Homo sapiens: one gene and its partners. The protein of the gene in region 4 purifies or fractionates together with the protein of the main gene of each other region. This does not show direct contact. Each region holds a gene or a part of one and is shown on either strand. Other genes may lie near its edges. The genes, in order: STRN, GRIPAP1, CLOCK, RABGAP1L, EIPR1 and RPRD1A.

The links.
Region 1: the proteins of RABGAP1L (region 4) and STRN purify together in Homo sapiens (affinity purification with mass spectrometry, with the first as the bait; one large-scale study listed by BioGRID). This does not show direct contact.
Region 2: the proteins of RABGAP1L (region 4) and GRIPAP1 purify together in Homo sapiens (affinity purification with mass spectrometry, with the first as the bait; one large-scale study listed by BioGRID). This does not show direct contact.
Region 3: the proteins of RABGAP1L (region 4) and CLOCK purify together in Homo sapiens (affinity purification with mass spectrometry, with the first as the bait; one large-scale study listed by BioGRID). This does not show direct contact.
Region 5: the proteins of RABGAP1L (region 4) and EIPR1 purify together in Homo sapiens (affinity purification with mass spectrometry, with the first as the bait; one large-scale study listed by BioGRID). This does not show direct contact.
Region 6: the proteins of RABGAP1L (region 4) and RPRD1A purify together in Homo sapiens (affinity purification with mass spectrometry, with the first as the bait; one large-scale study listed by BioGRID). This does not show direct contact.

What each region holds. Positions count from the first base shown.
Region 1 is NC_000002.12:36,958,717-36,964,289, reverse strand, and holds part of STRN (striatin), read left to right. Parts: intron 1-5,573. UniProt on the Homo sapiens protein: Calmodulin-binding scaffolding protein which is the center of the striatin-interacting phosphatase and kinase (STRIPAK) complexes.
Region 2 is NC_000023.11:48,987,721-48,993,293, reverse strand, and holds part of GRIPAP1 (GRIP1-associated protein 1), read left to right. Parts: intron 1-2,183; coding exon 2,184-2,368; intron 2,369-2,561; coding exon 2,562-2,609; intron 2,610-3,290; coding exon 3,291-3,322; intron 3,323-3,411; coding exon 3,412-3,459; intron 3,460-3,583; coding exon 3,584-3,683; intron 3,684-5,095; coding exon 5,096-5,173; intron 5,174-5,416; coding exon 5,417-5,509; intron 5,510-5,573. UniProt on the Homo sapiens protein: Regulates the endosomal recycling back to the neuronal plasma membrane, possibly by connecting early and late recycling endosomal domains and promoting segregation of recycling endosomes from early endosomal membranes.
Region 3 is NC_000004.12:55,426,407-55,430,733, reverse strand, and holds the end of CLOCK (circadian locomoter output cycles protein kaput), read left to right. Parts: 3' UTR 1-2,831; downstream 2,832-4,327. UniProt on the Homo sapiens protein: Transcriptional activator which forms a core component of the circadian clock.
Region 4 is NC_000001.11:174,161,466-174,167,038, forward strand, and holds part of RABGAP1L (rab GTPase-activating protein 1-like), read left to right. Parts: intron 1-5,573. UniProt on the Homo sapiens protein: GTP-hydrolysis activating protein (GAP) for small GTPase RAB22A, converting active RAB22A-GTP to the inactive form RAB22A-GDP. Plays a role in endocytosis and intracellular protein transport.
Region 5 is NC_000002.12:3,259,319-3,264,891, reverse strand, and holds part of EIPR1 (EARP and GARP complex-interacting protein 1), read left to right. Parts: intron 1-5,573. UniProt on the Homo sapiens protein: Acts as a component of endosomal retrieval machinery that is involved in protein transport from early endosomes to either recycling endosomes or the trans-Golgi network.
Region 6 is NC_000018.10:35,988,208-35,992,898, forward strand, and holds the end of RPRD1A (regulation of nuclear pre-mRNA domain-containing protein 1A), read right to left. Parts: 3' UTR 1,617-4,691; downstream 1-1,616. UniProt on the Homo sapiens protein: Interacts with phosphorylated C-terminal heptapeptide repeat domain (CTD) of the largest RNA polymerase II subunit POLR2A, and participates in dephosphorylation of the CTD by RPAP2.

The DNA of each region.
Region 1 (5,573 bases), on a different chromosome or scaffold from region 4:
GGTTAAAAAAAAAAAAACAAAAACAAAACACACACACACACCAGAAAACAATGCTTACCTTTCTACCTGTAGAAGTTGGGGAATTCCAACCCATCCTTCCCCCCGCCCCGCCCCGTTCACTCCCTCTCCTCGTTTAAACTTTTCAATTTACTGGTAACTGTAGTTGATCTTCAGTTTTTATGCACACATCTCCAAACACCCCTTCCTGGGTTGTTTGTGGCAAATGTTTATTAACTTCAGGTAGCTTTCCCATGGGTGCTTATCATATTAAAGAGACTCCTTTTTTTTTTTCCTTTTATTGGAGAGAGGGTCTCGCTCTGTTGCCCAGGCCGGTGTGCAGTGGTGCAGTCTTAGCTCACTGCAACCTCCGCCTCCCAGGTTTAAGCAATCCTTCTGCCTCAGCCTCCCAAGTTTAAGCAATCCTTCTGCCTCAGCCTCCCAAGTAGCTGGGATTACAGTCATGCACCACCATGCCTGGCTTATTTTTGTATTTTTGGTAGAGACGGGGTTTCACAATGTTGGCCAGGTTGGTCTTGAACTACTGACCTCAGTGATCTGCCTGCCTCAGCCTCCCAAAGTGCTGGTATTACAGGCGTGAGCCACTGTGCCCGGCCAAGGACACTACTTTTTTGACAGCATTTTCTGTTTTGTGTTCCAATTAAAGTTTCCACAGAGAAACTTTAAAAATGTGTCATTTTCCTAACAGGATGAATATGATATATTTTGGGGGGAAGAGTTTGCAGTAATCTCTGGTCTTTGTCCCCCCTTATTAGTGTAATTGGAAAAAAAATTATTACCATCGTTACATTTGAATCTTCTTTATTTTTCTTTTGCTACTGGAATTTTCTTAGAAACACAATAGGAAGTAAAATAGTTGAATGCGTTGTGATGAAATACGGCTCAGTTGGTGTCCTCCTTTTAATTTTTAAATCTCTTCCTAAGCCATTAACACCAGAGTCAACACAAATACCTTTAAGATGAAGTCAAATTTGCCTCTTCAAGAACCTGTCAGTCCTGCTCTTTCAGGTTGCCAGGGAAGACTTGTGAAAGGCAATCCAAGCTCTCATCTGCCTGGCCTGCCTTTACTGCTTCCTCCCTCCTTCAGATCTTGGGAGTAAGGAAAGGGCCACGTTATAGCAAAAACCTATTTATTTGTCACTTATTTCACTCTTGCTCATCTTATTTGATAAATTCTCTTTTTATTTTTGGTAATGCTCCCCTCCTCACATCCAGTTGAGATTAGGCAGTAGTTCATGGGGGGAAAAAAAGAATGATTAAGATTATTAGTGAGCTTTACATTTGTGAAAGGAATTGGAGAAGGAATACTAATAATATTTGAGAAAAATTTCTGTATGTGAGGCATTGTGCTAGATGACCTCAAAGAAACATGCAGTCTAGTTATTAGTACGATATAACTTGTAGAAGAATCAGAGTGTTTATCATTTGGGGAGAAGGCTAATTTCTTTAGAATAGTGAAGGAGAGGCCGGGCGCGGTGGCTCACACCTGTAATCCCCAGCACTTTGGGAGGCCAAGGCAGGCGGATCGTGAGGTCAAGATATCGAGACCGTCCTGGCCAACATGGTGAAACCTTGTCTCTGCTAAAAATACAAAAATTAGCTGAGCATGGTGGTGTGTGCTGGAGGCTGAGGCAGGAGAATCGCTTGAACCTGGGAGGCGGAGGTTGCAGTGAGCTGAGATCGTGCCACTGCACTCCAGCCTGGCGACAGAATGAGACTCCATCTTAAGAAAAAAAAAAAGAATAGTGAAGGAGAGAAGAGCCAGCAGTGAATGGGGAGAATAGCAGGAGTAAAGAACTTTATGAGTTCATGAGAACCTAAGGCTCAGTATTTGAAAATTACTGACTTATGAGAAAGCAGGCATGTAAATAAAAAATAAAAAATGTTGGCCCTAGATTTTGATATGTGTGTGGTGTGTGGTGTAGGAGAGGCCCTGATATTTACCTGTAAGTGTTAGAGTTGTATGAAAAAGGTGGCAAGATTGAGTAGCTTAGGGCATGTGGTGTGGAGGCTGTATGCTAGAGTTTTGGCATTAATAACTTGTATTTTCTGGGTTTTGGCATTAATAATTTGTATTTTCACTCCCCAAATATTTTTCAAGCATCTACTTCATGCCAGACCTTGTTCTAGATACCGGAGATACAACAGCAAAAATACAGATCTTGCCCTTATGAAGCTTAAATTGTTGAGGCAGGCAGACAGTGATAAATAAATACATAGAATGTTGGGAAAGAAAATAAGAGGATTTGAGAGGGTGGAATGGGGAAGAAAGGATTCACTGATAAGATGCCATTCGAGCTAAGACCTGAAAAGGTGATCTCTAAGGTGAGGAAAGAGCTTTCTACACAGAAGGAACAGCTGGGGGAAGGGAGCACGCTTGGAATATTTAAGGAATATCAAGGAGGGAAAAGTGGCTAGAGTAGAGGAAGAGAATGGAAGAAGTCATGTCAAACAGGTACTAATGGAAGAAGTCATGTCAGACAGGGTCTTGCCCATTGTAAGGACTTTGGCCTTATACCTCAGCAAGCTGAGCAGCCGTCGGAATGTTTTAAGCAAAAGAGTGACACCATCTTTAAAAGGGACCCCTTGTAAGGATTCAGAACAGACTTGGAGGGAAAACAAGTAGAAGCAGCAGGGGGACTAGTTAGGAGGCTACTTTAATAAATCCAGGCAGAAGATGAACTAAGGTGGTAGTGATAAGATATGTGAATATGTATTTGATACGTATTCAAAATACAGGATTCTGAATACATTTTTAAAGGTAGAGCCAACAAGATGTGCTAAAGGATAGAATGTGGGGTTTGAGAAAAAGGGGAGTCAAAGATGACTTAACAGTTTTTAGAGGGCCAGGTGCAGTGGCTCAAAACCTGTAATCCTGTAATCCCAGTACTTTTGGGATTGAGGCTGAGGCAGGAGGATCACTTGAGTCTAGGAGTTCAAGACTAGCCTGGGCAACATGGCAAAACCCCATCTCCAGAAAAAAAAATTTTTTTAATTAGCCGGGTTAGTCCCAGCTACTTGGGAGGCTGAGGTGGGAGGATTGCTTGGGCCTGGGAGGTTGAAGCTGCAGTGAGTCATGATCACTCCACTGCACTCCAGCCTGGGCGACAGAAGGAGACCCTGTCTCAGAAAAAAAAAAAAAAAAAAAAAAAAAAAGTGCAGCCTGGGCAACATGGTGAAGCCCCATCTCTACAAAAAATTCACAAAGTTAGCTGGGTGCGTTGGCATGCGTCTGTGGTCCCAGCTACTCGTGAGGCTGAGATGGGAGGATTGCTTGAGCCCTGGAGATCAAGGCTGCACTGCGTTATGATCATGCCCCTGCACTCTAGCCTGGGTGCCAGAGTGAGGCCCTGTCTCAGAACAAATCAATCAAACAAACAAACAAACAAAAATACATGGATATAGAGAGAATGAGCAGCCTCATAGGACAGCTGAGAAGATTTACTGAGCTTTTTAATGGAAAACATAAATACTTAAAATGAGTTTGTCTTTATTATTGTGACTATTATTTATAATTATCACAAAAGGCAATATGGCAGAGACCTGGGTTTAAAATTCTTGCTTTAAAACTTACTATTGTATTTTACGCCTAAAATACATATTTGCCGTAATTCTGATCTCTCAGAGCCTTAGTTTTCTCATGTGTAAGTTAAGGATAATAAATTACCTTGTGAGAATTAAATTAAGATAATTTAAAGTACTTAGCAGAGGCATGGTACATAAGATAAAGTAAGTGCTTAATAAATGGTTGCAGATGCATGATGCTAAACTTTTGCTCTCGGTTATCTCCTCATCCCCAGAGAAAAGCATAATCTTCAGTCATGAACTTTTCTGAGGCTGGAGCATACAAGTGCCATCCTGAGGCCATGCAGTGTAATATTCTGGGTCTGACCCAGGCACTAAGAGATATTTAATGGGAGTGAATGGTTGCCTTCAGTGTCAGCCTCAGAACATTGAGGATATACTTCAAGTGTATTTGCTTTCCTTTTAATAACCCAGTAGGTATCTGTTACCTTGAAATTCATATAAACTTTTCTGAATGTGTTTATCTTAACTTTGCATTACATCATGGGTAACAAATTGTGTAAATTTACTAACCACATTATGAAATGAATCCTACATTTTATTTGGCTCTTTAAGCCACTTCCTTTACATGTGGAGCAGGTGAACTCCATTGTCATATGGTATAATTTTGTCAGCAGGTTCATTTTTCATTCTACTCATATTCTTGATAATTTCATAATCTTTATATTTTAGAAAGGTTATAGAGGCTTTAATCTTTTAAAACGTATCCTATTATTTGTCTCTTCAGTTCAGTGTTTCTCAACCTTAGCTATAATCTTAGAATAATCAGAGGGAATGAATACTAATTCCCTGGACTCTACCCCAGATCAATTAAATCAGAATCTTAGGAATGAGGACCCCTAGCATTAGTATTTTTTGAGCTCCCCAGTATACAGCAAGGATTGAGAACCACTGCTTTAGTTGTTTTTTTCTGTTTTTACATTATCTATAAAAGTTTGGTGATTTCAACACTTTTATTAGTATTCCCTATATGGATGGCTTTTTATAGAATTTGGGATATAATTTCTTTTTCCATTGTTCTTTCTGATGATAGCATTTTATTTTTAGGCAGTAGAATATTATAATTTGAATCACCTCCTTCTGACTGAGATGTAATGACAGAGTAATCTTTGAGCTGGAATGAACTTTGGAAATAATCAGCTCAGTTAGGTAAAGTGAGGTTCAGAGGGAGGCTGAATGACCAAGAATGAAATAGGTTTTGTACAAGCTGTCACTTACATCTCCAGATATCTTTACAGTTTTATTTTTTCATATTTTTTGTCTAGGGGCCAGGCTAATCATCTGTATCATTCCAATTTGAGTATATGTACTGCTACAGCCAGCACTCTTTACAGTTTTCTTTAAAGCCCTTTCAGATACACTGTACCATTTAAACTGTACAACCTTCTGAGGTAAGCAGAGCCACACTGATGCTTATTTATTTATTTTTTTTAGATAACAGGCATAAAGATTTTACTGTGTTTTACTGCTTTCTAGCTTATTTTATTGGTTGCATTTAAGATTTTCTCTGTCTTTGGTGTTATGTAGTTTCATTATGATGTGTCACAGTATAGATTTCTTTTTCTTTTTTTGAGATGGAGTCTAGCTGTGTCGCCCAGGCTGGAGTGCAGTGGCACAATCTCGGCTCACTGCAACCTCCGCCTCCTGGGTTCAAGCAATTCTCCTGCCTCAGCCTCCCGAGTAGCTGGGACTACAGACGCCCGCCACCATGCCCTGCTAATTTTTTGTATTTTTGGTAGAGATGGGGTTTCACTGTGTCAGCTAGGATGGTCTCTATCTGACCTCGTGATCCGCCCGCCTCAGCCTCCCAAGTGTTGGGATTAGAGGCGTGAGCTACCACACCCAGCCTATATTTCTTTTTATTTTGTTTGGGACTTCATTAGACTCCTTGAATTTGTGGATTGGCTTCTCATTAGTTCTGCAGATTTCTCAGTTGCTATCTTGTTAGGTTTGTCCTCGATTGCATTTTC
Region 2 (5,573 bases), on a different chromosome or scaffold from region 4:
CATTTCACCTCTCTGAGCCAAAGCCTTATCATCTACACAGTGCATGTAGTGATGTCTGTCACCCAGAAGATTGTAGTAGAGATAAAAGGTGATATCATTCTGCATTAGTTCAGTGTCTGGTACCTAGCAGATGTTACAGATTAGCAGCTTGAATGTCAAAAAGGAGATATTTGCGGCCGGGCGCGGTGGCTCACGCCTGTAATCCCAGCACTTTGGGAGGCTGAGGCGGGCGGATTGCGAGGTCAGCAGATCAAGACCATCCTGGCTAACATGGTGAAACCCCGTCTCTACTAGAAATACAGAAAATTGGCCGGGCACGGTGGCGGGCGCCTGTAGTCCCAGCTACTCTGGAGGCTGAGGCAGGAGAATGGTGTGAACCTGGGAGGTGGAGCTTGCAGTGAGCCGAGATCACACCACTGCACTCCAGCCTGGGCGACAGAGCGAGACTCCATCTCAAAAAAAAAAAGGAGATATTTGCTAAGTGAAAAAGTGAATGGAGTGTTGGGAAGATTCTGAGCCCAGATTGTAAGTGGGGTCTGGGATGAAAGCTGAAAGAAAGCTTGATAGAGTGTGGGAGCATGTGGTGTGTGGAACTTTGGAGAGCAGCTGGGACTTCTGTGGTGATGGATGCTGGTTCCATGACCAGGAGGGAGACTTAGTAGAATGTGAGTAGGAATTAGGAGGCTCTAGGAGGGATTCAGCTGTAAGTCAGTGGTAGCATATGGTGGGCATGGCCTTCAAGGGCTATGGGTGGGGCTTCAAGGATTGAGAATGGGATTTGTGAAACCAGCTTGGGCTAATTTAATAGTAAACAGAATCTTAGTGGTTGATAGGGCTTAAAATATTTGTGAGAGCCTGGGCACAGTGGCTCATACCTTGATTCCAGCACTCTGGGAGGCTGAGGCAGAAGGATCTCTTGAGGCTAGGAGTTTAAGACCAGCCTAGGCAACATAGCAGGAACTTGTGTGTACTAAAAATAAAATAATTAGGCCAGGCACGGTGTTTCACACCTGTAATCCTAGCACTTTGGGAGGCCAAGGTGGGCAGATCGCCTGAGGTCAGGAGTTCAAGACCAGCCTGGCCAACATGGCAAAACCCCATTTCTATTAAAAATACAATAATTAGCCAGGTTTGATGGCAAATGCCTGTAATTCCAGCTACTTGGGAGGCTGAGGCAGGAGAATCACTTGAACCTGGGAGGCAGAGGTTGCAGTGAGCCGAGATCACACCACTGTACTCCAGCCTGGGTGACAGAGAAAGACTCAGTCTCAAGAAAATAAACAAATAAATAAATAATAAAATAAAATTAACTGGGCATGGTGTGCACTTGTAGTCCCAGCTACTTGGGAGGATCGCTTGAGCCCAGGAGTTTGAGGTTGCAGTGAGCTATGATTGCACCACTGCACACCAGCCTGGGCAACAGAGCAAGACTGTCTAGGGAAAAAGATTTTTTTGAGACGGAGTCTCACTCTGTCACCCAGGCTGGAGTGCAATGGCTCGATCGCGGCTCACTGCAACCTCTGCCTCCTGGGTTCAAGCGATTCTCCTGCCTCAGCCCCACGAGTAGCTGGGATTACAAGCGCGTGCGCCACCACGCCCAGCTAATTTTTGTATTTTTAGTAGAGACGGGGTTTCACCATATTGGTCAGGCTGGTCTTGAACTCCTGACCTCATGATCCACCTGCCTTGGCCTCCCAAAGTGCTGGGATACAGGCGTGAGCCACCGTGCCCAGCCACGGAAAAAGATTTTTGGGGGAGGCTGAGGTGGGAGGATTGCTTGAGCTCAGGAGTTCAAGACCAGTCTGGGCAATGTAGCGAGACCTTGTCTCTACAAAAAAATCAAAAAATTAGCCCGGCATGATGGCACACACCTCTGATCCCAGCTACTTGGGAGAGTGAGGTGGGAGAATCACTTGAGCCCAGGAGGTCAAGGTTGCAGTGAACTGTGATCATTCCAGTGCACTCCAGCCTGGGTGACAGAGCAAGTCCCTGTCTCAAAAAAAAAAAGAAAAAAATGTGAGAGGCATGGATAGAGCTGAACCTTCGTCTTTTAGGCATGTGGTCATTTGGCACAGGGACTCTGCCACCTGAGGGGTTGAAGGCCAGTTCTCCCTCTATTCGAGGCATGGCAAGGGACTTCAGAGACCACCTCATCCATCATATATCCCTGTTCTACTCACCAGCCCTGCAGGAACGCTATGGGAAAGAAGCCGGGAAGTTCTCAGCTGTCAGTGAGGGCCAGGGGGATCCCCCAGGGGGCCTGGCCCCCACCGTCCTGGCCCCCATGCCGTTGGCAGAGGTGGAGCTGAAATGGGAAATGGAGAAAGAGGAGAAGAGATTGCTCTGGGAACAGCTGCAAGGCTTAGAGGTGAATCTGAGTCTGTTGGAGCTGGAATGCCAGAAGGCAGGGCAGATGTTCTACCTCTGTCTATAGTCCCACGGAGATGGCTGTGACATCACCATCTTGTGGGCTGATGGGGTGAGGGAGGCAGGAGGGCAGGGGAAGGCTTCTCCTTGTCCTTGCTAACAACAACCCTCCCATCCCTCATCCTTCCCTGCAGAGCTCAAAGCAGGCCGAAACATCCAGGCTGCAGGAGGAACTTGCTAAGGTGCGGCTGCTTGGCTCTTTCCCATTCTGCTCCCAATCTGCTGGATTCTTTCCCATTCCATTCCCAATCCTAGGGCAGAAGGGGCATTGTACCCCATCAAAGCCTAGGTTTCATCATCTGTGAAATGGAGAGACTCACACCTATGTCTCAGAGTTACTTTCAGTATGGAATGAGTTAATGTGGTCCCACTATATCTTGTGCATGATAAGTTTCATCCCATCCATCTCTCAGCTTTGCCCATTCACTCATTCATTCATTCATGCAAGCATTTACAGACTCCTGGCTCTTATCTTAGGACCTGGAGACCCAGGGGTGCGGCACCCAGTCATGATATCCTGCTTTCCAGGCCTCCCAGCCTAGCCAATCTATAACATGGCCATTGGCCACTATGTTGGGAGCATAAATACCGGGCTTTGGAACCTGAAGGATCTGGGTGGAGATAATATTGTTGTTGCTGACCCGCTGAGCAACCAAATTACTTAACCTTTCCAAGACTCTGTTTCCCCATTTGTAAAACTGGTACTACTCACTTGTCAGGGCTATTTTGAGGATTCCACAAGACAACATAAGTAAATCCTGGCTTCCAAAAATGACTTAATAAGAAGTGTCTATATTTATTAATTTTAGGTTTGTCTTTATATTATTCTCAATGTTATCACTTGTCTGTACCTCTCTCCCCAGCTCTCCGAGAAACTGAAAAAGAAACAAGAAAGGTAAATTTCTTTTTCCCAAGGGTACTGGGGGCCGAGGGGGGAATTAACTTACGGAACTGACCCATCTACATCTGTCCTTCTGTGCCCAGTTTTTGCCGTCTGCAGACAGAAAAGGAGACTCTGTTTAATGACAGCAGGTAACTGCCAGATTTGCGGGTATTGGTGGACAATTGGGACAGTGCCCAGTGAAGATTACAGGGGCAGAGCTAGGAGACTGGGCCTCAAGCCATGTCCAACACACCCCCTCCCCATCACTCCTAGGAACAAGATTGAGGAATTACAACAACGGAAGGAAGCTGATCACAAAGCCCAGTTGGCTCGAACCCAGAAGCTGCAGCAGGAACTTGAGGCTGCCAATCAGGTGATGGGGACTGGGTTCTGAGATCCCTGGGGTAGGGGCCAGGACTGGGAGCCTGGAGAGGTCTGAGGTCCATGGAGGCTGGCTGGGGAGTCTGAGATTTCCTGTGTTGGAAATGGGTTCTGGGGCCCCCCAGGAGCTAGGAAAATGGGAATTGGAGAGCCCTAGGAATTGTTATAGGAGTCTTCATGAGTGTAAGATCTCAGGGGGCTAAGGACTTAGGGGGCTGTGTGCTATAAGTTTGTGTAAATCTGAAACTCCTGGAGGTTTGAGACCACAGTCTGGATGAATCTGTGGTCACTAGGGCCTAGGACCAGGAACTGGGGTAAGTCTGAACTCCCTGGGTGCTGGGTGACTTTGAAATCTTTAGGGGCTGGGATGTCAGTAAATTTGGGACTCCCAAGGGCTGAGGACATGGCTGGGTAGATATACAACTTTCAAGGGTGAGATAGTTGGGGCTGAAGGCTGAGTGCATTTGAGATCCTCAGGATCTGGGCGCTGGCTTGGGCCTAAGACACCTAGGAAGTGGGATCATATGGGCTAGGTAGTCCTGAGATCCTTGAGGGCTGTGAACAAAAAGCTGGTCAGTCTGAGACCTCCAGGGGCTGGAGCAGAAGTTTAGGTGGGTCTGAGGCTCCTGAGGACTGGGGGCTGGATGGTTCTGAAGCCTCTGGGTTTCCTTCTAGAAAAGGTGAGTCTGAGGTCCCTTGGAATGGAGGATATGGTGGCTTGTGGTTCTGAAGTCCCTAGAAACTGGGAACATGGGGTCTGAGACGGGAGTCTGGGTAAAGCTGAGACCCCCAGGAACTGGTGGTTAACTGGGTCTGAAGATTCCAAGAGACTGGGGAGCAGAGTGACAGGTGAAGGGGTCAGTCTGAGAGTTCACCAGGACCTGGAAACTAGGAGGTTGTGAGTTTGAGACCTCTAGGATCTGGGACTATGAGTTTGGGTGGATCTCACCTGGGAAGTAGGGACGTGGGAGATGAGTGTGTCTGAAACCCCTGGTGGTTGGGATTGGGAGGCTGGGTGAAACTGTCATCCTTGGGTGCTGACTACATCTGAGATCCATGGGGCTGACTGTGTCTGAGAATCCTGGAGCTCCCAAGCTAGAATCTGGGTGAGCATGAGACTTCTTATGGATGGGAGCTGAGTGAGTTTGAACCGCGTAGCAGCTAGGGCCAGGAGTCTAGTCGTGCCTGAGATCTTGTACGCTGGGATAGAGGGGTTGACTGTGTCTGAGGCCCCTGAGGGTAGTGACCTGGCGTCTGGGTGAACCTGAGATTGCTGTTGGCTGGATAGTCTGAGACCCACAGGTGCTGAGAACATGCTGCTGGGTGGTCAAACAGAGAGTCTGTACGGTTATATGCACCCCAGGAGAGGCTGAGGTGTAAAATGGGCTCCCCTGGTCTCCACAGAGCTTGGCAGAGCTGAGAGATCAGCGGCAGGGGGAGCGCCTGGAACATGCAGCAGCTTTGCGGGCCCTACAAGATCAGGTATATTGTACTGCGTGGGCTCAGGGAGCTGGGGTTCAGGATGGGGGCAGCCTGAGTGGGTACTACATAGTCAGGCAAGGTCCCAGGGATCCTGCTTCCCCCAGGCCTTCGTGTGTGTGTGTGTGTGTGTGTGTGTGTGTGTGTGTGTGTGTGTGTGTGTGTGTGTCCTTTCTTTCTTGGTCGTGGGTAGGTCCTGTCCCCCTGTTCTGGACCCACTCTCACCTGCTGTGGACGTGGGGCCAGGTATCCATCCAGAGTGCAGATGCACAGGAACAAGTGGAAGGGCTTTTGGCTGAGAACAATGCCTTGAGGACTAGCCTGGCTGCCCTGGAGCAGGTAAAGAACACCTGGGGGCCCTTGCTGATCCCTCTCCAGTTCCCCCATCTCCATCTGCTTCTGG
Region 3 (4,327 bases), on a different chromosome or scaffold from region 4:
TAACATTTTAGAATATAATAATTTCAAGAATTATTCTGAGTGTTTTAAATGTGCCCTGAAATGTTGGCATGTCATTTCAGCATTTCCATTTGAATTGCTCTTGTAATATTTTTGCACAAAAAGGACTGAGAAAAAGAATACTTTGGTTAAAGGAAAAAAATAGTATAATTTGGTCTTTAATTTTAATGTCTCCTGTGGAAACACTGGGGATGAATTTTGTTGGCACAGTTATTCAGGATATTTAAAACAGTGTTGAACAGTTCACAAGAAATTAAGCAAACTTGGATTTTAAAAATTAAAATACTTTCTTTCCATGTGACTGTTTTGCATAGTTTTTTCCCCCTATGTCATAACACTACATTCCTTGTTTTTCTTAAATAAAATACTCTGCAGGTTTTGTTGTGAGTGTTTATAACAGTATTTTGTAAGCTGCCTGGGTTTCCTCAGGGAAACATTATTTAGTGGAATAGGATATAGTTTATGGAGAGACAACTAAGTGAAATTCCATCACCACCACCAGCAAACACTGAGGTGCTGCATTAAGTGACAATCAAACTAGTAAGTATTTATGAAAGAATTTAGAAAGGGGTTCAAAGAAGCAATTGCTTTTAAAGCAGTTCTCTGGGGTTCTTGAATAAAAATGGCTAAATGTATTTATTTATATTTTAAAATACCTGTGTGTTCTGTTTTCTCATCAAAGTGATTTCGGTGTCATGTATTTAATGTGTGGTTTGTTTTGTTTTGCACCATATTCTTCTTAGGGAACTGGCTCTGATTTGGGGTGCAGTCACCAACTCTCATGATAATCTTTACGGACAGTCTGAATCTACTTTACTTCAGGACGGCAGTGGAGGGGCCAACTCCAGATGCCCCTGCACTTCCCTCCTCAAGTCATCTAAGAAAGAATTTTAGAAATAACTCCTTTCAAATCTGATTCATACAGTTCCAACCTTTTTCTAGTTTCACTTGCTGCCTTCTTTGTTTTATGGGCACTTTTTGTGTGATTACTTCCCCAACACAGTCAAAGGCCAGTATGACAGAACCAATGGCACATGATGCCTCTATTTTGCCCATTTGGGGAAATGTTAGTAAAAGAAATAGCATCTTTTAATGGCTGTCATTATCATATCCATATTAAAATCCATTTAAAGTTCTTAAATTTGGCGGAATAATGTATACAGGCTGTAAACTTCTACAAAAAATGTTTGCTGTCTTTAATATGGTGTCAAGTTACTTGGTCCTTTGAAAACAAAACAAAACTTCCATACACAGCACTGCCCAGTAAAGCAGTGTTGGAATATTGGAAACCTAGACATTTGAGGATCCTTCTTGCTCACAAGCATTGGAACAGAATCCTCCACTTTAGGACTCAGAGAAGCTATGGAGTCCCACAGGCTAGGTATAGCACACAACTTAGAGAACGGTAGTTAAAGCACGTCAACCACAATTGAATTTAATGATCTAAAAAATATTTCTTAACTCTGAGGGTTAAACTGAAGATACGTTTTCAAATAAAAGCTTTTAAATTTCTTAGGAAACAAACTGTGACATCGCTTTTAAAAATGACATTCAAATGTTTATAATGTGTGTTTTTGAGTTGGCTTGGACTAGTGCAAGTTCACTGCTGGCAATGGTTATGCCAGTAGTTAAGTTAAAATAAGTTGTTACCTTCAGATTGATGTCTTGTATAACCAGACAATCATCTTCAAGCAAAAAAATTGGCCAGGAAATGTCTTTTTAAAAAAAAAAAAAAAAAAAAAGATGTGTCAGCCAGAACAGTTACCATTCAGACCATACTGGAATGATTTTGAAATCTTTACTATGGTTTAAGTTGGGGAAGGCCTCAGTATGGCATTTTCATATTCACTCTATGTAAAGATTGAAGCCCAAAGATGAGTTAAATTCAGTGCTGTATTGAAACCAGTCAGTGCAAAAAAAAAAAAAAAGTTTTACCTTTGTAAATTTTTCATTGTTAACATCAGTTGGTAGTTGTTAAAACATGCACCAAATTCTTTATAATGTTCTGTGTGGTTCTCAATGTGATATTCTTGACATTGCTGTCCTTACTGCTTGGTTCTTGGTTTTAAATTAAAAAGTAGATGTAGCTCATCATTTTTACTTCCAAAACGGTGGAGCTAAAAACGGCTAATTGATCTTGAGATAAGAATACCCTTTACTAAGGCAAAGATTTAATTGAAATCCAAAATGATTTATAGAAACGAAAGGCATTTTCCATTTGTTGTCTTCTGCCGAAATTCTGAATTGCATACACACATGAAGGATAATGAATGGTTTCAACGGTGCTATATTAGGTTCTCTGATTTTCATGACCTATGTATGTTTGGAAATACAATATTGTATAAAATGTGGATCGTTTTGTTACCGATTTAATATTGCCATTTTAATTTGGTGTAACAATTGGTTACACTTGTTTTTCAAAGCTATCCTTTGAGGAGAAAGTCAAAATGTGTTGTTAGCCTACCTCCACTCAGGCCTCTTGCTGTGTAATCATTATTCCAGGTTATGATGTGCATAGCTTTTAAAACTGCGTGTACTATTATTCTGCTCTTTCCCATACTCTTGTCATGTATTCAGAACCTAAACTTATAGCAAAAGAGCCAAGCAGTAGCAGTTTTTGTAAATGTAAAAATAATTAGATCCAGACTTTGTTTCCTTCAATTTTAAAAATAAAAAATACCTCAGTGCTATGTTTTTCAGTTATCACCTGCATTTCTCAAAAAATAACACCTGCTTCATGTGGCACATAACTTGTAAGAATCACATTTTGGATTTTAAAGAAAGACTATTAAATATTTTAAGATCACTATCAATGACATTTCCCTTTCTTTTATTCAACAATGGAGCCTATTGCAGTAGCGATTTTTACCTTATAGCTTAGGTCTGACTTACCAAAAATTCTCAGAGGAATTATGTCCTGCTACAAGATTGTGGTGCCTCAGAATGCGATGCTGTTCTTATTCGCATATGAAGCTAGTAATGGGACCAAGCTACCTGAACTGAGGTTACACGATGATGGTGCCAGCTACTCCCTACGAGGAATTGTCTTTTCTGTTGTTATTAGAAAAAACGGTTGGGTGCGGTGGCTCACGCCTGTAATCCTAGCACTTTGGGAGGCTGAGGTGGGTGGATCACCTAAGGTCATGAGTTCAAGACCAGCCTGGCCAACATGGTAAAACCCTGTCTCTACTGAAAATACAAAAAAATTAGCCAGGCGTGGTGGCGGGCACCTATAATCCCTGCAACTTGGGAGGCTGAGGCAGGAGAACTGCTTGAACTCAGGAGGCAGAGGTTGCAGTGAGCCGAGATTGCGCCACTGCATTCCAGCCCAGGTGACAGAGTGAGATAGATTGTCTCCAAACAAACAAAACGTATTAGTAGGCCAAGCATGGTGGCTCACGCCTGTAATCCCAGCGCTTTGGGAGGCTGAGGTGGGCGGATCATAAGGTCAGGAGTTCGAGACCAGCCTGGCCAGCATGGCGAAACTCCATCATCTCTACTAAAAATACAAAAAATTAGCCAGGCGTGGTAGTGCACGCCTGTAATCCCAGCTACTCGGGAGGCTGAGGCAGGAGAACTGCTTGAACCCGGGCGGTGGAGGTTGCAGTGAGCCAAGATCACACCACTGCACTCCAGCCTGGGCGACAGAGTGAGACTCTCTCAAAAAAAAAAAAAAAAATACTAGTGAGAATTCCTCACTCTTTCTTTATAACAAACAAACAATCTAAGGCAATATAGACTGTCTAACCACAGAGTTTATCTTAATCCACAGACATTGTTTTCTACCCTTTGATACTTCCTATAGCAGAAAACTACAAATATGACCTTTTTTACCAACATGTGCTACTTCTAACTTGGCATTTAAGCTGAAAACTCCTCTTAAGATCTCCACAGTAGTAGCTATCATCTTCCTCACAGAGTTACCATGTAGGACAATTGCTGCATCCTACAGTGCTGGATGATTAACTGGGTTCTTTCACAATCTCTTCAAATTGCAGACTACATTGTGGACCTTTGTAGTAGCTCATAAACCTGAATTGCTCTGGGTCTCCTATTATACCTCACACAAATAACATGGATGTTTCTGTAGAATTGTCCTTCAATTTAGTGAGGCTATTAATGGGAATGTTACTGCATATGATTCTAGAATATAAAAGGCTGAGAGAAAGCAGCTGTTATGCTACTTGGGTGAAGTAGTAGTCAAATCAAAATATACTCAAACGAGGGTGACGACTGAAGTTGCCATGAAAAAATGAGGTAGTCTTAGCATAATGAATGACATTAGGCTCTGGAATTAAACCGCCTGGTG
Region 4 (5,573 bases):
CTGACCTCAGGTGATCTGCCCGCCTCAGCCTCCCAAAGTGCTGGGATTACAGGCGTTAGCCACAGCGCCCGGCCTCTGATGTGTACTAGTAAGTCATATGGGGAGAAGTAGATGAAATAGGGTAGAGCTTATATGTGAACATATTATATAACCTACATTGTCCTCTAGAAAGCTGGAAACAAGTTAGTAAGTCTCAGTACTATTGGGGCATATGGTGAATATACAAACCAACCTAAAAAAGTGTGACTGTAAATAGATGAAGTTTGTTTGTTTCTTTTAAAGAGACAAGGTCTCGCTCTGGCGCCCAGGCTGGAGTGCAGTGGCTCAGTCCTAGCTCACTGCAGCCACGAAGTTCTGGTCTCAAGAGATCCTCCCACCTCAGCCTCCTGAGTAGCTGGGACCACAGGCACATGCCACCAAACCTGGCTAATTTTTTGTTTTATTTTTGTAGAGTCAAGGGTCTCACCATGTTGCTCAGGCTAGTCTCCAACTCCTGGCCTCAGGCAGTCCTTGCGCCTCAGCCTCTCGAAGTGCTGGGATTACAGGCCTGAGCCAACGGTGCTTGTCCCATTTTTTTTTTTTTTCACCTGAGTTATTTGATGGGAATTTCTATATATTACAGTTGCGATGTTCTGAGAATTTTTGTTTCTTTGATAATTGTTTCATGATTTAGATGTTTTCTTTTTACGCTGGTAGTTATGATTTTTTTTTCCTTTGAATGAAAGAATTTTATTAGGCATGTGAAACAGGAGTTTTCATGTGATCAGCTCTCCAGTTCTAAATTTGTGACTTTTAAAAAACTTGAATTTTTTTCTTTGCCTTAACCCAAACTTGAATTTGCTCAGCCATTGTATATTTATTTGAACTCTCAGATGATACAGCATTGAAGCAGAAAGTCCTTTTATCCATGCTTTTGGAGTAATCAAAAGAAGGAATTCTGTTGTGCCAAGTAAAAATATGTGTGGGAGATAGCTAGGCTTCAAGAGATTGACTTTGAAGAGAGTAGTGGCTAAGTAGCAAAAATTTCCTATATTGAAGGTGTAGAAGTGGGCCTGCATTCCAACCTACCATTGTCTTCAAGTGGGGTATGGATCATTATGACTGGTTAGAGGGGGTTTGGAGAATGAAGTTGTTGCTGTAAGCCTATGGGATTCCCAGGCACAGAGCTTGCTTATGTCTTAATTTTAATGAGTTCTATATTTTTATAACTCTTGACTTATATAAATGGGTCAGCCGTTGAGTCTGAGGATGACCAGCAGCCCAAGGCTATTCCAGGTGCTGGTATTTCTTTTTTTTTTTTTTTCTCTTTCTGTTTTTTTTTTTTTTTTTTTTTTTTTTAATTATACTTTAAGTTTTAGGGTACATGTGCACATTGTGCAGGTTAGTTACATATGTATACATGTGCCATGCTGGGAATTGAACAATGAGATCACATGGACACAGGAAGGGGAATATCACACTCTGGGGACTGTGGTGGGGAGGGGGGAGGGGGGAGGGATAGCATTGGGAGATATACCTAATGCTAGATGATGAGTTAGTGGGTGCAGCGCACCAGGTGCTGGTATTTCAAAGATGGCTCAGGGGTTTCTTGTGGAGATGATCTGATGAGCATTTTGCCATTACAAACAGTGGAGGCGGAGAAAGTACGGACTTGAGCCTGAGTTATGGTAAAACATACTCATTTTTAAAGGAGAGTTTTAATGCTGATATTATAGAGAAAGACATTGTTTGACTCCTAGACTTTCAGAACGGGAAATAATTTTGACTTTATAGTCAGTATTTGAATTGGGTATAAGTATGTGAACATCAGTGGACCCTAATAAGGAAGAGTTAATGAATTAAGAAGAGCTTGCATCTCTGAACATCTTCTTTTTATACTTCGTTTACTTCCCATATTGCTCTTATTCAACAGATGGGATGGCATAATTGGGTATACGAAGTTTATGCGCATGCTAACTCTTTTTTGTTATCTTTTGGTGTTTTTTGGTGTACTTTTTGGGGATTTTCCTGGGAAAGTTCTAGGCATATATTCAGTTGATTTAGAGTTAGATTTGGGCTAAGATTATTAGTATACTTGAAATTCTGAGCCTTCTTATTTTCTAAATAGCTTTTAAAGTAGAAAACATTTGCCAGTGCTGTTGGGCTTAAAAAAAAAAAAAACCCAACAACAACACAATTCTTTATAAATACTCATGAAAAATCTGGTTACAGGCTGTGTTGTGATAGACATAGTACAGCCAAAAATATATTTAAGAAAATTCTCACCCAGTTTAGTAAGCTTAAATAAGAGGAAAATAAGACAGTTTTTTTTTTTAATAAAAGGCTGATTTTCCCAGAATATGAAGCCTAACAACTGTTTGCTGTGTTATTTTCCCTGTTGCCTGTTCTAAATTCAGCAAGAACTATGCATCCCTAGTCCATGGTAAAAGCTTAGTTCCAGTAGGTGATTCTTAGTAATGGAAGTCTCATTGAGGGATGCAAGGGAATTTGATTGGGAAACATCAGGCATGGAACATTTACTTTTTACTGCTCTAATTTTCTGTGTATCTGGGTATTCAGTGGGGTGGGAACATGAGCACAAATACTAGAATTATCTGGATTTTTTTTTTATACTATGGATTTCCTCCTCTTACCCCCTACCTGCCCCCCAACCCATTGCTAAGTGAGCCATTGATAGTAGGAGTGTGTTATATCCTTCAGGTATGTAGGGCTGAACAAATGCTAAAAACCTTGGCACTTGGCTGATATTCCATAAACCAAATTCCTGCTCTGTGTAATTTGCCTTCTGGTGATATCAGTTTGTTACTCCCATTTTTGAAGAAAAATATGAATTGTGGTGAAGAGACATCTGTAACCAAGAGTAAGATTTATCAAATTATGTAGTATACATGAAGGACACCAGGAGATTGTTTACCTGAACATTTATTAAACTCATTTGACTGTGACCCACAATAAAAAATACATTTTACTACTTGATTCCGCAAGCGCACACACACACAAAGTTGAAAGTTTGGTGAAATAATATTTATCTTTTCAGGGCCCTACTGAGTTAGCTATAATGGCTTGCAAGACCAGTTGTGCATATTTCTTCCTATCTAGCTCTTTGTCCAGTGACATCATGTTGGTAGCTCAAAATTGGTCATGGTGGGAATATTTACACCAGGAAATTCAGCAAATGGTATTCTTAGGGCTTCCCTCCTCATAGGTAGTTGTTAAACATTTATAGCACCCCACTGCTTATAACACACATTGATATATTCTGTTATTTCATTTCATTTTAAAAATGCTGGGTTTTGACTTCCAAATTAATTTTACACCCAGCTAATGGATTATAGCCTACATTTAACAACAAATACAACTAGTTTAGCCTACCCTCTTAACTTTGTAAGTGAAGGAACATACTAAGAGCCTCAAGGCCAAGGTCAGATAGTGAGTTATTAGCAAAGCCAGGGCTCTGGACTCAATCTGGAGTTGTTTCTGGTGGGCTTCTTTCCTAACCTCACTTAGTGTGTATAAGGGATTGTGTTAATCAGTTTGAATAAAGATGGACCTTGACCCTGAGGACTTTATGCTTAGGTGGGGGATTAAATATGGAAACAACAGTGATAATGAAAGGCAGAAAGTAATGGGTGGTAAAAAGATAAAGATAAGGAACTATAAGAGTTTAGAGAGGAGGGAGAGATTACTTTTATTTTTGTTTGTTTGTTTGTTTTTCGTTTTTGACCCAGGCTGGAGTACAGTGGTACAATCTCGGCTCACTGCAACCTCTGCCTCCCAGGTTCAAGTGATTCTCCTGCGTCAGCCTCCCTGAGTAGCTGGGATTACAGGCGCCAACTGCCACACCAGGCTAATTTTTGTATTTTTAGTACAGACGGGGTTTCGCCATGTTGGCCCGGCTGGTTTTGAACTTCTGACCTCAGGTGATCCATCCGCCTCAGCCTCCCAAAGTGCTGGGATTACAGGCGTGAGCCACCGTGCCCGGTCTACTTTTAGTTTTAAGGATAAAAGAAGAGGTGACATTTGAACTACTTTTTTTTTTTTTTTTAATTTGGAGACAGCATCTCACTCCCGTTACTCAAACTGAGTGCTGTGGTGCCATCACAGCTCACTGCATCCTTGATTTCCTGGCCTCTAACAGTTCTTCTGCCTCAGCCCCCAAGTGGCTGGGACTATATAGGCACACACCAACATGCTTGGCTAATTTTTCATTACTTGTAGAGACGGGGTCTCATTATGTTGCCCAGGCTGTTCTTGAACTTCTGGACTGAAACTGTCCTCCTGCCTCGGCCTCCCAAAGTGCTGGGATTACAGTTGTGAGCCACCACGCCCGGCCCCTGAACTATGCTTTGAAGAATGGGTAGGATTTGGACATGTGGAAATAGGACAACTAGTATGAGAGAAAGGCCTTTCTGGGCCAGGGGCCAGGGTGATCAAAGGCATACAAGCATAGACAGGGAAAAATGAGTAGTGAAAGAGCTAGGCAAGAAAGAGTCCGTTAGCACCAGATGGTTAAGAGCCTAGAATGCCAGTTTTCCTTTCTGCTTTTCAGTTTATCTTTCATTTTTGACTCTGGAGTAATCTAGTACTTCTTAACATTGAACAGGATTTATATGTTATGATTAAAATATGATCCAGAGAGCACATAAGTATCCTTAGAGTAGAAGCTGAAGGGAAAAATTATTAGTGTTAGAGAAGCAACCTTGAGTTTACCAATCCTAAAAGTGTTGGAAAGTGAAAAATATTTTATTTGTAAGGAGAGACAGTGTTTTTTTTTTGTTTGTTTTTTGTTTTTCTTCATTAGCGTCAAATTGGCTGTAGTAGAACAGGAAGCAGTTTTGAAAGTCTTTACAAGGGCCTTCTAAAATGTGATTTCTAAATGACTGGATCTTAATTTTTGGAGGCAGGTTTAGTTCAGGCAGAAGGGTAGTTTATACAGATCTGCAGCTAAGCTGAGTAGCTTTTAGAATTTAGGGCAGCAAAGCAGGGTATTTTATACAAAATCCACTTGTAAGGAATTGATGGCTTCTTTATTCCAAGAATTTTCTTAGATTTCAGCATTTATGTCTTTGACAGCCTGTATGACTGAAGATGTTTTGAAGTCTTGGATGGAACTTGCCTTGTTTCACAGGGGAATTGGGTAGCTAGAAATGAAGGTATAAATGCCAGTAAGTTGTGTCTGTTAATCAAGTTGAAGTACTGGTGGCAGTTCTCAAGCTTTTCTGTCTGCTGATGATTTCACACTTACTGCTTCTAATTAAATAGTGTGTAGTCGATTTGAAGAAGCCTTGCTTCTCTTTGACCCACCAGTTCTGTAAAGGTAAAAGCCTTCTTAGAGTGTTGCCCAGGTAACAACACATACAGAGACTGCTTAATAGCTCATCATGGAAGTGTGTGGAAAATTTTGGAAATGTTGGTAAAGAAGTTGCTATAGTAAATAACTACTTGGTTGGTAAAAAGCTGGGCTACTTCTGGATAGTTGATAAAGAGTTTTTGAGATGAGCCGTGGTTCTAAAATAAATATGAATTGTGTCATTGCCACACGATTTTCTTCAGTTATGTAAGCTCCTAATATG
Region 5 (5,573 bases), on a different chromosome or scaffold from region 4:
AACATGGAGAAACCCCGTCTCTACTAAAAATACAAAAATTAGCTGGGCATGGTGGCGGCACCAGTAATCCCAGCTACTCAGGAGGCTGAGGCAGGAGAATCGCTTGAACCCGGGAGGCGGAGGTTGCAGTGAGCCGAGATGGTCACTCCAGCCTGGGTGACAGAGCGAGACTCGGTCTCAAAACAAACAAACAAACAAACAAACAAAAACAGCATTGGTTCATAGTGTTTTGCAAAGGAATGGGGGTGAGGTTGTCTTCTTGTGTCATGTGAACTCGCACGTGGCTAACATAGTTGATGCTTCTACCCACTGCAGTTCCCTTTTTTCATCTGTCCTGCCCGGAGGAAGCCTCCTCTGGCCCCTGCCTTTGACACTTCCCTAGCAGTGCTTGGAGCTTCCTTATTTGCCGTACACAGGAAAGTCTTTATCCAGTTCTTCTGGGGCATGGCAAGCTGAAGATGATTGGGACATTCATTACAATAAGGAAGCAGCCTGCCTATCCATCAGTGCTAATGAGCCGGATGAACGGATAAAGAAACATGGTACAAATGGAGCATTGCTCAGCCCTAAGAAGGAAGGAAATCCTGCCATCCGCAGCAGCAGGATGAACCTAGAGGTCTTGAGTGGAATAAACCCAGCACAGAGAGTCAGACACCACGCAATCTCACTTACATGCAGAATCTAAAAATACTGAAGTCACAGAAGCAGAGCAGGTGATAACAGAGGCTGGCGGGAGGGCGGATGGGGAAAAGGGAGATGTTGGTGAAAGGATACAAAGTTTCAGTTAAGGGGAGAAATGAGTTCCAGAGATCTATTGGATGTCTTGCTGACCACAGTTAGTAACAATGTATCATGGTAACTGAAGTTATTAGCAATGTATCATATACTTGAAAATTGTTAAGAGAGTAGATTTCAAGTGTCTTCACAACAAAAAATGATAAGTATGTAAGGTAATGCAAATATGAATTGGCTTGACTTAGCCATTCCACAATGTATACACATATCAGAACATTACTATAAATATATGCATTTTTTAATTAGAAAGTTAATGGTGCTGCAGCATCATTTGTTGGGGACACAGAGCCATCTGGAAATACTGGGTTCCAGGCCTCTGTGTGCTATTACTGGGGCAAGGAAACTGACAGAGGAGCTGGGTCCGGCACCGTGCCGCGTCCTGGGGAAGGCGCTGGCCGCACCGTGCCGCGTCCTGGGGAGGGCGCTGGCCGCACCGTGCCACCTCCTGGGGAGGGCGCTGGCCGCACTGTGCTGCATGCTTTTGCTGCATGAACCCGGCTCACCTAGGTGGTGCGATGTGATGTGGATAGGAGATCCTGGGCCCACTCCTGCTTGTTGTATAGTGCAGTTCTGTGGCTTCTCTGATTATGTGCTATTTGTAGTGGTGGGGCCGTTGAGGGGTGGTCTCTGGTCAGGGCATCAGGGCTTTGTTTTTGCAGCCAAGAAAGGCAAACTCATACTTGGACTAAGTGTCGGATGAACTTCTTCCTGTTCTCAGGATGGAAGGGGCTCCAGGCATCACCTTGCCACATGCAATACTGTGGGTGGGTCTCCAATTTCTCAGTCTTTTTACTTCCAGGCTTCTAACCAGTCACCAGGCAGTTGGCCATGCCCTTGAGTATGGGCCACTTTTTGCACGCCACAGGGATGGCCAGAGCAGTGCTGGGAGCCCTGCCTCATGATCACCGTTCTTCACAATCAGCTTTCCCTCCATGCTCTCCCAGCCGTCTCCTGAGCGTAGCCGTCTGACAGCGCCTGCCAATGTTTGGCTTATGCCCTCTCCCGAACTCATTGATCTGTAAAGCAGCTCAGATCTCTTCTCCTTCTTCAGCTAAAAGTACAGGACTCCCACATGGCCACAGGCATGAGTGCAGGGAGGGTCCGGGGCAGAGAAGTCTTGTATGGTTTGGGCACCTACCATGCAGTTTTCTGGTGCCCTCTGGTCCTGCCTGACTCTGTCCTGTGTGCACCGTCTCTACTTTGTAGTCAATCACTGCTGGCCCTGCCCGACCCTGTGCCGTGGTGGGTATGACTGAGCTCTTCTCATGAGTGACACGTGGCACTTGGTGCCCCATGGCCAGGAGCTCCATTATCAGGACCCAGAGGCATGGTCAGAGCTGTTTATCAAAAGACATGGTTCTGTGCTGCAGATGGCATGGCTTGCTCCAGAACCCCGGGACCACGTGGTGACTCCAACCGGGCTCTCCACAAAGTCCACACTGCATGCTTTCTACCACTGACAACTTCCACACCAGCAGGTCTACTAGGCGTCCCCAGAAGCAGGGCTGCCTCTCCCCAGCCTGATCTTGCTGTAGTGCCCTCTTGGCCTAAGCTGGCAGCCTTACGTGCTACCCCAGCATCTGGGCTGGTCCAGCCTTCCTAGGTGTATAATGTGTCACCTCTAGAATGAAGAGGGCTGGCAGGCATTACAGCGTCTTTTCTGCTTTTGCTCTGGAGGGGAAGTCCTGGTGTCCTCAGCAGAAGTAGCAGGTCCTGGAATTGCCATAGCTTGTGTTTCCTGCCGTCTTGCCAAGGTCTTCTGCACGCTCCTCCTACGTTGTCACTGTAATGTCATGAATGCAGTGGGTCCATGTGATGTTCTGTGGGCTGCCCAGGTCTGTTTGGACTATATTATGATAGAAAATGGGAGACCAGCACAGCTCTGTGGCAAGAGTGTATACTGTTTTCCTTTGCTTGTGAATGCGGATGGTTTCTCATCTTCTTTCTTCATTGGGATAGGACAGCGTGCATTTGACGGTCTGTGTACACACATCATGTGCCTGAGGGCCTGGGAATCTGCTCTAACAAGACTCCACAGCTGGCACTGTGGATCTGAGTGGGCTCCTGCTTTGTTGAGCTTAGAGTCATCCACAGGCATTCTCCAGGGCCCATTAGCTTTCTGCAGAAGCCAATGGTGAATTCAGCAAAGCCACACCCACTTCATATCCTTGATTCTTAAAGTAAGCGCAGGTCTCTACCACTCTTTGATGGGTTGGGACGGGGAGGCAGTTTCAGAGGCTTCTATGTGACCTTCCCATTAACTCCACAGGTCACAGGCCCGGTATGGGTATTTCACAAACTGCCCAGGATGTCAATCCCATTTGACCTTAACAGACCTTGGAGTTGCCCACCAGGTGCGCCCACAGACTCAGAGGATCTGCGGTAAGCCAGGCCCTGCCTAGGACTTTACTTATCACCTGGCATCCCCATGCCCCACTCGGGCCGGAGGACAGTGGGACACTGGGTTGCTGGACCCCTGTGCGTGTCTTTGTGTTCAGCAGACCTGGAAATGTGTGGGGATTACCCTTTGCCCAGGGAATGGCATTCAGGAAAATGGCCGTGGGTCCCTTTGGGTACAGACTAGGGTAATCATTGCAGTGTACACCTGCCCTAGGGTTGCAGGTTCCTAACCCGTGGGGAATCTGACCATCTTTACCGTCAGTGGGTTCCAGCTCTGAAGCTGCCTCAAATCTGGATCTGGGTAAGGGATTGTGACTGTGAGTGGGGTGACTTCCCTCAGCCTTCTGCTCATTCATTCTTGTTTTCTTTTTAATATGTATGTACGTTATGTACGTTTGCACTCATGTGTGCATGTGTCAGGCAGGCAGTACTCTCCTTGAATGCCTTGTCTGTTTCACCCCTAGGAATACCAACTCTATTAACTGTCTCCACAGCCCTCTGCCAGTTGAGCTTCCTTGGCCGGCACTCTGGTCTCGTTGGTCATTATGATAATTGCCACCCCCTGACTTCTGGCAGTTACATACCGTCACCCGACCACATTTACTTGGGGCTGGGTTTAACTGCCCAAGTCAGAAAGCTGGACAAAGCTTATTATCAACAAGCCAAGCTTTGTGACAGCTTCTTCTAAGAGTGGAATTATTGGGTCATCTGGTAAGTGAATGTTCAACTGCAAAAGTGTTTTCCAAAATGTGTGTACTGTTTTACACTCTTTTTTCACAATCCGTGAGAGATCCAGTTACTGTACATCTTTGCCAATACTTGCTATTGTTGGTCTTTTTTAAATGAAAATTTCACCACTCTAGTAAGATGTGTGGTGAGTCTCACATGGTTTCACTTTGCCTCCTTCCAATTATTAATAATGTTGAGCATCTTTTCTGGTGCTTGTTGACCATTCATATGTTTTCTTTTGTGAAGTGTCTGATTTGGCGTAAGGTACATTTAAAAAAATTGGGTTGTTTCATTATTAAGCTGTGGGAGGTCTTTATATTTATTCTGGATACAGGCCTTTTGTCAGATATATGTATTATAAATATCTCCCCCAGTCTGTCTTTTCTTTTCTTTTGTTTTCTTTCTTTCCTTTCTTTCCTTCCCTCCTTCCCTCCCTCCCTCCCTCCCTCCCTCCCTCCCTTCCTTCCTTCATTTTTTGAGATGGAGTCTCGCTGTGTTGCCCAGGTTGTAGTGCAGTGGCACAATCTTAGCTCACTGCAACCTCCACCCCCCAGATTCAAGCAATTCTCTTGCCTCAGCCTCCCAAGTAGCTGGGATTATAGGCGCCCACCACCATGCCCAGCTAATTTTTATATGTTTAGTAGAGACGGGGTTTCACCATGTTGGCCAGGCTGCTCTCAAACTCCTGACCTCATGATCCGCCTGCCTTGGCCTCCCAAAGTGCTGGGATTACAGGCGTGAGCCACCATGCCCGGCCACTGCTTCATTTCTTTAATAGTGTCTTTCTGAAAGCAGAGTTTTTCATTTTGATTTTAAAGAAGTTTTAAATTTTAATGAAGTCCAATTAATAGGGTCTTTTGGTGAATAGAAGTTCTTAATTTTAATAGATTCTATGTTATTCGTCTTTTTCTGTATGATCCAGCTTTTTTTCCTGCCATTTAAGGAATCTTTGCTTGTCCCAAGGCTGAGAAGATATTCTACTATGTATTCTTGAAAAGATTTGTATTATTTTATCTTTACGTCTTTATCATCAGTCTAGCTGGAATTGGTTTTTGAGTATGTTATGAGGTAGGATACAAGTTTATTTTCTTTCATATGGATATACAATTGATCCAGCATCATTTATTGAAAAGACCATCCTTTCTCCACTCTTGAGTGTTATTTTTGTAGTAAAACAAGTGACCATCTTTCTAAGGGTCTGTTTCTTTCCAGCTTCCAAAACTTCATTGCTCTTCTATCCTTGTGGGTTTATGTTTTTAAAAGAAAATAGAAAGAAAAACCCCTCTTTGTTACAACATTAGAAGGGTTTCAGAATGGAGTAAAAGTTGAAGTGAGTGTAGATTCTCTTATCTATATTTTCTTGGAGGTTCCTCCATTGCCTTCTCTACTCTGTGAAGTTGATGGACTGTGGGGAGAGAGGTGAATAGCGCTACATGAACCGGATACGTGGAAACTTCATTGTCCAGCTGGTCACTTAAACATTGTATCTGGTGTAGACTTTGAAGGGAGGTAGCTTACCTGAGAGTGGAAAATCTTACTTCACCTGTACCACTTTTGCTTTATTGAGGGCAACGTGGATATAGTTAAGGAGTTTGGTGAGCTGGCGTTTACAGGAAAGTCACTTTCTTTACACCTGAACAGAATTCTCC
Region 6 (4,691 bases), on a different chromosome or scaffold from region 4:
TTACAGGCGTGAGCCACCGCACCCAAGCCTGCTATGTACATTTTAACTAAAAAAAAAAAAAAAAAAGTGTAACATCCTCTCACAAGCCCCCATCCTTCAATAGTGCGTTTAGCTGACATCTTGCTTTTTAGCTTGAATACTTGGATAACGTTAATTTTACTATCACATGAAATGTTATGCAAAATGTAGACTTGGTGATGGTGGAGCTGCAACAGAACATATCAGTGTAAGAGGAAGCATCATATAGTGGTTAAGGAGCACCAGCTTGGAGTCAAACTTGGAGCCAGGTTTGAATCTCATCTTCACCATCTGACTCGTTCAGAGTCACACAGACCTTACATTATTTTCATTGCCCAGATATAAAAGTGGAATAATTAGAGTATTTACCACAAAGGATAAGCGAGGTGCTTGGAACAGTTCCTGGTGCACAGTAAGTACCATATATGTGAGCTACCATTATCATCTGTTATAGACCATATATTGCTTTGTAGGGCATGTTTCTCAAAGTGCAGTCTATGAATTACCTGCATTAGAATCATCTGAGTAGCTTGTTTAAAATGCAGATTTCTGCATCTATCCCAAATCTTCTGAAACAGAATCTCTGGGTATGGGTTCCACTGTATAAAACCTATTGCAGAAGCAAAAAAGTGGATGGGAATGGGAAGTATCTGAATTCAGATAAAGTGACCAGATGCCACCCAGGAATAGAGAACCAGGGGTGCTGTGGCCAGAGGACTACATTTCCCCAACTTTTTAGATGATGGTAAGAATCACAGAAAATTTTCTCAGTAGGTATGTATCCTTTTTGTAAATGCTCCAATTGAGTTTACCAAAAAGTATGGCACACACTGCCCTGGAGATTCTCACAGATTTCTAGTATCTTCAGTTTTGCTTTAAATTCAAGGAGTGGTAAAAGGGCATGGGCTCCAGGAGGTTGACAGTACCAATTGAATCTGTTCACTCAAAAGCACTTAATAAAGCACTACTAAGCAGTGGACCACAAAAGAATATGTGATCTTGTTCTTTTCCCATAAGGAACTTGCTATATAATTATAAAAACCATACTTTATTATCTTATTACCTGGAATTTGTTTAGAGCAGTGGTTGTCAGAATGTGGTCCCTAACCCCAGTGGCATCAGCATCAAGTTGTTTGAACTGTAAACCATCAGGCCTTACCCCAGACCTACTGAATCAGAAGCTCTGGGAGTGGGGCCCAACTATCTGTAGTTTATAAATCCTCTAGGTCAGGGATGTCCAATCTTCTGACTTCCCTGGGCCACCCTGAAGAAGAATTGTCTTGGGCTGCACATAAAATACACTAATGATAGCTAATGAGCTAAAAAAAAAATCTCATAATGTTTTAGTTTACAAATTTGTGTTGCACCACACTCAAAGCCGTCCTGGGTCACGTGCAGCTCACAGGTTGGACAAACTGGCTCTAGGTAATTCTGATGCTCGCTCAAGTTTGGGAACTACTGGCCAAGTAAATCTCCTCCTTCAGCAGTCTCTCTACCATAACATCAGAATTATTTCCAGTACTTTGCTTCCCTCCCAGTCCATTAATCTTTCCCCTTCCCACCCCATATCCAATGAATCAGATTCACAAAACAACCTACACATTTCAAAAAGAACATAAAACTTTATTAAGAACATCTTATACTGTCATCAGATACAGCCAAAGAAGAACGGGTAAACAAACAGGGAAAGTTCATCTTCCCATGTGCTATTGCCACCTCAGAACAGACTCCTGTGTGGATGGCTGGAACAACAGTTGGCAACAAATGCTCTGTATAAATAATTCATTAAGTAACACAATGTTTCCTTTCTATACAGAGAAGAACTGGGCTTACATTTTAAGTTTTGATATAGTGCAACAACTATGAAACAAGACTACATCCTTAGGAGCTATTTCTTAATAGAATACAAAGCAGTTTAGTAGCTTTATGTTATTTCAGATAATGTAATTTTTTTAATGAAAAATTCAGAAAGGACATTCTAACTTTCCCAATTAGTTAATTTGTACTGTTGAGTTTTTTCTCTCTAAAGATTTCTCAGAATCAGTTCAGTAACTATACTTTAAAAAGATGAGTTGCTCATCTACAGTGATAACTGACAACTTAGTTTTGTGATTTTGCAAATCAAGATGCCTGGGTCATCCCCACTTTTGCTGATTCTGAAAGATTTCTTATAGAAAAACCCTGATTCAGAGTGCATGTGATAGGAGATACCAAAATAGCTGCATCTGGACAGGGAGGTTGGCTATTGAGCACAGCTGATTCTCAGATTCCTGGTTCCCCTCTATGGTCCTTTTACTTACTGTAGTGATGGAAGGAGAGAAGGAGCGCCCGAGAATCTGTTCAGATTGTGACTCCAGACAGCTCTCTGCACTGTATGTGGAGAAAAGAGTGATGGCATCCATTCAAACCATAGCAGCCCTACGGCACCATGCTTTTCTCTTGAGGGGTCAGACCAAACTGCACTCAAAGATGCATGATCTGCCTCAGGTGCACAGTGGAGAAAACGCTCATGATTTACAATTTGGTATTATAATACCCCCAACTAATCCCATTTCTTGAGAAAATGAAGTCTTCCTTTTAGGAAGAATGTTTGCTGCTAAGGCTTACCATGTTAATTATCACACGGCTGAAAAGATGACTTCTAAATCAGACTGTATTGTCTGTGTTCAGTTAATACGTTAACCAACAACTGAAGTTTGTGGAGGATTGGTCGAGGGGTGGGATTCAGGTTTTTGAGTACTATCACTTATCACAAATCTCATCAAGCTCTTTAAAAAAATAATGCATTTTTATCATAAATATTTAGAGCAGATACTGGCATTAAAATCAGTATCTAAGTCAGAAGTCTGTCTGAAATGGTGAAAATATTTCAACAAACTTCTAAAAGATTTCAAATCTTCCCAGGAGTACATAGTTTATAAATTAGTTTTAAATGGAAAAAAATATATATTTTGAATGGATAAATCACCACTTTAGCAGATCATAAATAAGGTCAAGATATTGAAAATAAGTTAACATACAAGTTTTTGCTTTCACATTAATAATAAAAACTAACTTACTTAGTATACTTTCATAACATGTACAACCAGGTTTCATAATTGTGCATCTGTCACCTCCCCACTTGGCTGAATCTTTTTCTTCCATTTCCTACACCTAGGGACAGAGGTACACAGACATCCCAGGGTGTGAGTGTGGCTGCTGCATGCTGTGTCCTAGTTAGAGCAGTGTTACAAATGCTGGTCAGGATCTATGATTAGTAACCTGTGAACCACGTTACAAGTGAAGGACATTCATGGTTAGGTGGATTCAGTTCCCAGGTGAGCTATCAGCGGTAGTGTTAGGGAACCTAACTACTATTCTTTCTGTGAGAAAATGCACCCCAAGTCCCAAAAGTTGACTAAAAACTTTGGAATAAGCCATGTATTATTAGTAGTGCATGGATGAGCACTACTTATATGTGTCTCTGTTTTGGAGAGAGGTCAAATTGTTAAAAGAACTATTTGCAGAACTACTTGGCTATTAAAAATAAATGTCTGCCTTCTTCATATGCAATTCATTGTAACTATAATTTCTAATACTGAGAAAGAAACAATGAAGCCATTCAGACTAGAGAGACATAATTGGCTTGTGGGATTTTCAAGATGTTTTATTGACTATCTAATTTGAATCTACTTACAAAGAGAAGAAAAATGTCTAGTATGTAAAGCAATGAATGAAAATAAATGTTTATCCTAAGTCATTATTGAGTACAAATCCACAGCTTAACAATGTGTTTTTAACAGCAGGAGAGCATGCAACTGCTCTAACACACAGGGTCAGAAATAAAAGGTAAAAGTACATTTGTTTTGTAACTGTAAATATACAAATATAAAATTTACCATATCTACCCTGTAGTGTGGCACTGCTTAACTGCCAAATATACAGTCATTCAAAAACCTTAAGGAAACATTGAAAATGTCTCAGGCTACTTTACTGAACATTAACGAATATTGTGTTCTTGAGCTATTAGAGCTAAAAGTATTATTTTTAAAGTTATATGAGCAAGGGAATAATAAAAGTATCATTTCACGTGTCTTTTAATCCCATAGACGGCTTTTTGTTAAAGGGATTAATTATGTTAAAAGGAAACTGATTTGACAAATAGAAACCAGTTCCAGAACCAAAGTTGTCCTCTTGGTAGAATGTCAAAATGTATATTATTTCCAAAGTATTTTCATTATTAATCTACTCAAATAATTACAAACAGTTTAATCAAGGGAGTCACTATTTAACACTTTTAAAATCTACACTGGCAGTTGGAATGGAACTTTTACAATGCTATTAAGGAACAGTTCTCTAGACTTTCATCTGCCCCTCAAAGTGACATCCCTGTTTTATGTTAAATTACCGACCTCTAAGGAATCAAAGGCATGTAGAGACACAGAATTGATATTTTGTTTGGGGAGAAGGGTAAAGATTATGTTGGAACATTTAGTCCCTTCTACAATCAAGTCCTAACTATACCATAATAAAGTCTCAATCAACTCCTAATTAGTTCTTCCCCTTCAGGAATTACATAGTATACAGTGATTAAATGCTGAAGAAAATAAAGAAAAACAATTGAAAATACCTGAAGAAATACAAACAAGAGATTTCTCACAAGGCCTTGGATCAAAAAAAAAATTTACAAAAAG